Homo sapiens: one gene and its partner. The protein of the gene in region 1 purifies or fractionates together with the protein of each later gene. This does not show direct contact. Each region holds a gene or a part of one and is shown in the gene's direction. Other genes may lie near its edges.

Evidence for each region. Proteins that work in one complex are often made in the same cells at the same time.
Region 2: the proteins of IWS1 (region 1) and CTDP1 purify together in Homo sapiens (affinity purification with mass spectrometry; one large-scale study listed by BioGRID and IntAct). This does not show direct contact.

What each region holds. Positions count from the first base shown.
Region 1 is NC_000002.12:127,491,990-127,495,489, reverse strand, and holds part of IWS1 (protein IWS1 homolog), read left to right. Parts: intron 1-535; coding exon 536-618; intron 619-2,079; coding exon 2,080-2,209; intron 2,210-3,401; coding exon 3,402-3,500.
Region 2 is NC_000018.10:79,710,803-79,714,302, forward strand, and holds part of CTDP1 (RNA polymerase II subunit A C-terminal domain phosphatase), read left to right. Parts: intron 1-2,169; coding exon 2,170-2,336; intron 2,337-3,500. UniProt on the Homo sapiens protein: Processively dephosphorylates 'Ser-2' and 'Ser-5' of the heptad repeats YSPTSPS in the C-terminal domain of the largest RNA polymerase II subunit. This promotes the activity of RNA polymerase II.

The sequences.
Region 1 (3,500 bases):
AAGAATGGAGGGAAAGTAGCTAAAAGAAGACTAGCTATGTGTATTCAGTTGTTGAAATATATGCAACAGGTATATTATTCTATATTTGTAGAATTTGAAATTTTTCATAATTTAAAAAAATAGAAAAAACTGCCCAAGTAATACTGAAACTCTTCTTTGATATAGTATATTCCAATATCATATAACCTCACACCTGGAAAATTGTTCCTAATATAATAAACCAGAATTTCCCAGTTTTAATTTGTACCTTTAATGAACTCTGAAAATTTGACAGTTATGCTAATGTTCTACATTAAAATTGTTTCTCTCAATTTGTAGTTGTTAAAGGCAATTATTCTAATAGTTTTTTGGGTTTGACTGACATAGACAGATACAGAGCTTGGTGCTCTGCAGAAGATCCATCTTAAATTATTCTTTCTTGTAGGAAAAATTGTTTCTTTGAAAAACTGTTATTTTAAGGTTCAGAATTACAGTGAATTCAATATTAATAAAAAGTACTGTTTTAAAAAAAAATCTTTATTTTTTTTCTGAATAGGAAGACAGACAGTTGAACAATCAAAAAAAGCCAGCACTGAAAAAATTAACTTTACTGCCTGCTGTAGTTATGCACCTTAAGAAGTAAGTATTTTGTTTTCTTTAAAATGTCTTTTTCCTTTTCATGGAATGATAATTCAAATGATGTACTGGTGTTCTAGGAATATTAAATAATGATAGACTTCTATCGGTTCACAGAAAGATAATGAATAAAATTTCCTAAATTATATTTCTTCATAAATTTTTATTAAGCCTTGATGCCTGGTGCAAACAGAACAAATAAAAAATTGATACTAACGAAAGAAAAACTTGGAAACTACTAATTTTGTGTTTTTTTGTTTTGTTTTTGTTTTTTTGGTAAAGACAGGATCTTGCTATGTTGCCCAGGCTTGTCTTGAACTCCTGGGCTTAAGTAATCCTCCCACCTCATCCTCTCAAAGTGCTGGAATTACAGACATGAGCCACTGCACCTGGCCACTAATTTTGTTCTTTATAGACAGTTTTTGGTCTGGTAAAATTGCATCTGTTTTCTCCGTGTGATGGAAAATAGTAAATCTTGGAAGATCCTACCTGAAGGCTGCATTGTACAAGGCTTATATGACTCTAATGTGTCACAATTATTGATCCTTCTGAAGTAATGATGCCCTTTTTGAGTAGATCCTTGTTTCTAACTTTTTTCATTGATTTGCTTTTTTTTTTTTTTTTTTTTTAATTAGAGACAGGATCTCGCTGTGTTGCCCAGGCTGGTCTCGAACTCCTGGGCTCAGCCGATCTTCCCGTCTCAACACCCCAAAGGCAAAGTACTGGAATGGGATTACAGGTGTGAGCCACCACACCGGGCCCTGATTTGCTTATATTTCTGAGCAACCTTGCTTTCTCTTTGAACTAAGCCACAGCCTACTTTTGATGACTGAGGAAATGTATTGGTGCATCAGTGAGCTGCCACCAGCATGGCCTAGAGCATCTGTAACTAGAAAATTTCTCCCTCTATTCTAACAGGGGAAACTATCTGTGGCAGGTTTTATGTATATAATGTTATCTTTTCTATTAACATAACTGATTCCAGTACATAAAATGGAATTTAAGTATTATTTTATTGAGTTTTTTTTTTTTTTTTTTGTCCTGCCAGTGGAGTGCTAGTCTCATTGGTGTCCTGCAGAGAAGAGCAAATCTGGGTTCACCACCATGTAAAACTGTTCAAGAATCACTATTTTGATAGATTGAACGTTTTTTTTTTTTAGTTGAAAAGATTGGAGTTAATTGTTCTTACTGTCTGTACCATTCATATCAGCATTAATTTATCTTGTGTAACTTGAGTTTGTTTTGTTTTCAGCAAATCATCTTTGTCAAGTATATGCATTTCTGGAAAATAAGAACTAAATGTCATACTGCTTTCGAAACCAGAATGGTGTTCAGTAAATGTCAAATTTATATGAGTAACGCTTTAAAAGCAGTTTTTAGAAACATCACTAAATATGTAAGAAAAGTCGGAAGATACAGTAGAACCAAGGTTCACAGAATTTTTAAAAATTATTGTTACTGCAGGCAGGACCTTAAAGAAACATTCATTGACAGTGGTGTGATGTCTGCCATCAAAGAATGGCTCTCACCTCTACCAGATAGGAGTTTGCCTGCACTCAAGATCCGGGAGGAGCTGCTGAAGATCCTGCAAGAGGTTAGAGGCAGATAATCTGACTGTTCTTTATTAATTATCTAATGTGGTCTGTATGGTCATAACCTGTGTAGTTTACAGTGTTTTTATATGTTATCTCTGCTACAGCCTGCCAGAAGAGGGGTTGGAAAAAAGGAACATATCTAATAAAATGAGCGTGAAAGGGAAGACCTTATAAAACTTCATGTAACTATCGCATTGAAGGGAAAAAATCTTAGAGTAGCTGTAATGTGTCTGAGAAGAGTAGTACAGTAGTGGGCAAGTTCCAGGGAGAAATGTGACGCAGAATGAACACCAAATTCAGAATCATATGAACTTGCATTTGAATCTTGAGCTGGGCCACCTTACGTAGTTGTGACACCTTGGGTAAGCTATTTAACTTCTGAAGGAATTCCCAAGGAAACCTCCTATGCCACGCACTGTGCCAGGTGCTTTATATATGTATTGATTCGTTTTTTCCTCACAGTAAACTGAGAAGGTAGGTGTATTATTTCCATTTTACAGATGAGGGAATTAAGATGCAGAGAAGTTAAACGACTCGTCAAGGTCACATAGCTAGAAGGTGGCTGTGCTTGGGTTCAGTCTTAGGTCTATTGGATTCTGAGGCCTGTGCTGGCTCCTGTATTAAACTGCTAACCTCTGAGTACGCTTGGTTCATACTTTCTCACATTGTTAGGTTTTACTTCAACTCAGCTGTAATACTGAGCTCTCAACCTCTTTTTGTTTTTTTTTTTTTTGAGACGGAGTTTTGCTTCTGGTGCCCAGGCTGGAGTGCAGTGGCACCACCTCGGCTCACTTCAACCTCCGCTTCCTAGGTTCAAGCGATTCTCCTGCCTCAGCCTCCCGAGTAGCTGGGATTACAGGCGCCTGCCTCCACACCTGGCTAATTTTTGTATTTTTAGTAGAGATGGGTTTCACCACATGTTGGCCAGGCTGGTCTTGAACTCTTGACCTCAGGTGATCCACCCGCCTCAGCCTCCCAAAGTGCTGGGATTACAGGCGTGAGCCACCATGCCTGGCCTGAACTCTGAACTTTTGATGTGGACACAAAGTATCTTTGTGTTCTATGTCTGTAGATCCTGAAAATGGAATTTTTTATTTGTTCTGTTGTGAATGTGCCAGGTCTCTAGAATAGACTAGCAAGACCCCCAGCTTCCGAGTGATTAATATGTGTGTATGTGTTTATGTTCCCCAGCTGCCTAGTGTGAGCCAGGAGACCCTGAAGCATAGTGGGATTGGACGAGCAGTGATGTATCTCTATAAACACCCCAAGGAGTCAAGGTCTAACAAGGAC
Region 2 (3,500 bases), on another chromosome or scaffold:
CCCAAAGTGTTGGGATTACAGGCATGAGCCACTGCACCCGGCCTAGAGCAGTATTTCTGTATTGATGTTTTTTAGGAATTTAACATCCCCTTTCCAGTTTTCATTGTTAGCCTCAGAATACTTAGAAAGTTCCTTTCTAACCTGTACTCCCACTGTCTCCCAGGTGCCTGAGCCCTGGTGCTTGTGCAGGGCCCCCAATCCAGGCTCTGCCCCATCCCAATAGCCCTGTCCTGCCCTGAAACTGCCCTTGAGCTGGGCTTTTGTGTCTGTGGAGGCGGGGACTGTCATCCTCTCTGCCTCGTCTCTGTTAGACAGCACAATTCGATGTCAGCCCGCCACCTGACGTTGTGTATCTGTCATCCTCTCTGCCTCATCTCTGTCAGACGGCACTGATTCGATGTCAGCCCGCCACCTGACGTTGTGTATCTGTTTGCTTAACCAACCCTGGCATATGTGATCATTCTAGTCCCTTGACCTCCAAATTTTCATTCCTATGCGAAGACCTGGCATCGAGATTTGTGGTTGGAGAGGCAGGAGGCAGGCGTGTGTCCCCACAGTAGCCAGCTGTGAAGGATTTGGCCCTTTTGCCTCTGAGTATCCAGGGAATGGCCAGGGCTCCTGGGGAACTCAGCGACTGGACTTTCGGGCCCAGAACCCAGGAGGGCAGGCGTAGGGACGGGATGGCATCAGGGAGGTGGCAGTCGAAAGGACCCGAGTGGGCAGAGGAATGTGAATAGCCCCACCCCACGCACAAGCTCAGCAGCTCTGCGGGGCCACTGGTTTAGCGGCAGTTCTTGACATCAGCGTCAGCATCTGAGGTTGATAATTTTCTTAGGAGCTTGCTTGTGTTAATCCTACTAATAATTTACAAAATCCTAAGTCACTTGACTATTATGCCCATATTTTTGCCTTTTGCCATTTCTTCCTTTCCATCAGCTCCAGAGCCCCTTCCTGTCAGCTCCTCTGAGCCTTTTTGACAGGGCAGGCCGCTCCCCGCCCCTCCGCAAAGACTTTTTAATATTCTTTTATATGCTTTGACGTTTCTTGCCCACTGTATTCGAGGAGTTTCCCCATTTCCACCCGGAAGTCCGTCCTTGCTGATGTAACACCATGTCAGGTGTGGCTTGTTTTCCCGAGGAGCCTGGTGGCCACAGCCTCAGCTTCAGCCACTTCCTGGTTCTCGGTGGCCAGTCCCCACAGACTGTGAGACCTATGCTTGCTAATGTTAACTAAGAAGAGAATCTGAAAGTATTTACTTCAGAAACCTCCTTTTTGCTAGTTAGCGCCAGAGTGAGTAGATTAATCAGGGCAAAAGAGAATGAGAGGTGCTGTTAGTGTGTTACAGGGAAAAGTCACCCGAAGGCAGAATGATAGGATCGAATGGGGACATGCCCAGGATAGGCCCCAGTGGTGGGTACTGTGGTTTGCATGGAGGTAGCTGGAGGTCCGCTTAGAAATTCTGCATCAGCACTGGGTCTGGTTTTTGTTTTTTTGTTTTTGAGACGGTCTGGCTCGGTCGCCCAGGCTTAAGTGCAGTAGTGTGGTCTCAGCTCACCACAGTCTTGACTTCCTGGGCTCAAGCTATCCTCCCACTTCAGCCTTCTGAGTAGCCGGGACTACGGGCGCACACCCCCACACCTGTCTAACTTTTGTATGTTTTGTAGAGACAGGGTCTTCCTATGTTGCCCAGGCTGGTGTCAGACTCCTAGGCTCAAGAGACCCTCCTGCCAAGACCTCCCGAAGTGCTGGAATTGCAGGCATTAGCCACACAGCGCCTAGCCTGGTCTGTTTACAGAGTCAGCAAATTCTGGCCTTTAGGCTACCCAGCCTTGTTTGTACATGAAGTTTTATTGAAACATGGTCACGCCCACACGGTCAGAGTTGGGTTTCGTCCCCGTGGCCCGTAATGCCTAAAATAGTGACTCTGGCGCTTTAAGAAACAGTTTGGGAACTCCTGCCTGAAGGAGAATCGGAAACAGCACTGAAGATGTTACTGAGGTTTAAATGCGACCCAAACAGAAAGGGCTTCGGGGCGGTTGGTGTCCGTCTGATTAACCTGCTGTCTGCTGGTTACATGTGGATTAGAATCTTAAACTGTTACGCTTGGCAAGATGAATGACTACAACTTTTCATTATTATTTTTTGTAAATTATGCATTTTCACTTGTAGAAATCTCTTTCCTTGTGGAGACTCAATGGTTTGCATTATTGATGATCGAGAAGATGTCTGGAAGTTTGCCCCCAATCTGATAACTGTGAAGAAATATGTATACTTCCAGGGCACGGGTGATATGAATGCGCCCCCTGGGTCCCGAGAATCTCAGACGAGAAAGAAAGGTGGGTAACCTCCTTCCTGATTCTCTAGAAGAATTCACATTTGCTTATTGTTTAGCTCTTCTTATTTCTTATCTCTGTTTTGACTGCTATAAATTCAAGATACACTTTTTTTATTTGTGTTTCAGTAGAGATTATTGGATTTATTTATAGAGTACTGAAAAACAGGATATTAGGTTGTTTCAATTTGGGCTTTAAAAAAAATGGCCCTCACTTAAGCGTTTTCCCAGTTGAATAAAAACTAGAGGATGCTGTTTAACCTAACACATCCGAATAACTCCCTTCATCCCAGTTTTCCTTAAACACATCCCTGGGTATTGGGCCATAGTGTTCTGTAGAGAGAGTGAATGTGGGGGCGGTGGCTCTGCGGGGAATAACCGTTCCCCATGCGCAGTGGTCAGGCTGGGCGCTGGCTGGGGCCCCAGAGAGCAGCGTGGTTTAACTTGTCAGTCAGGCATGCAGCTGACGTCCACCCTACGAAAGTTAAGTGTTTTTTGATCTTTAGTTTTTTGAAAAATATTTTGAGGCACACGTTTATTGCTGTAGTCACTAAAATGGAACTTGGAGGTTAGGACCAGGGGAGGGTGAAACTAGGGGCATTCCTGTAGAAGGTAGAGACTTTCACCAGATGGGTGGGGTCAGCGTGGAGTTGCTGACTTCCTCCAGACCGTGGCTTGGGAAACCGTGGCCATGGTGGTGCCAGGTCATCCGGGGCTTACAGTCACGGTGGCGCCAGGTCTGCAGGGGCTTACGGCCACGGTGGCGCCAGGTCTGCAGGGGCTTACGGCCACGGTGGCGCCAGGTCTGCAGGGGCTTACGGCCACGGTGGCGCCAGGTCTGCAGGGGCTTACGGCCACGGTGGTGCCAGGTCTGCAGGGGCTTACGGCCACGGTGGCGCCAGGTCGTCAGGGGCTTACGGCCACGGTGGCGCCAGGTCTGCAGGGGCTTACGGTCACGGTGGCGCCAGGTCTGCAGCCCGGAAACCTCTAGTTGTCCTTACAGGTGGAGGATCCCTCCTCCCCCAAATCCAAAGCTTTTTGAGTGCCCACATGGTGCTTAAAGGAAATACTCATTAGGGTATTTTGGATTTTTTGGATTGGGGATGTTCAGCTGGTAAGTTTAACGCAAATACTCCAAACTCAGAAAAAAATTCAATATCCAAAACGT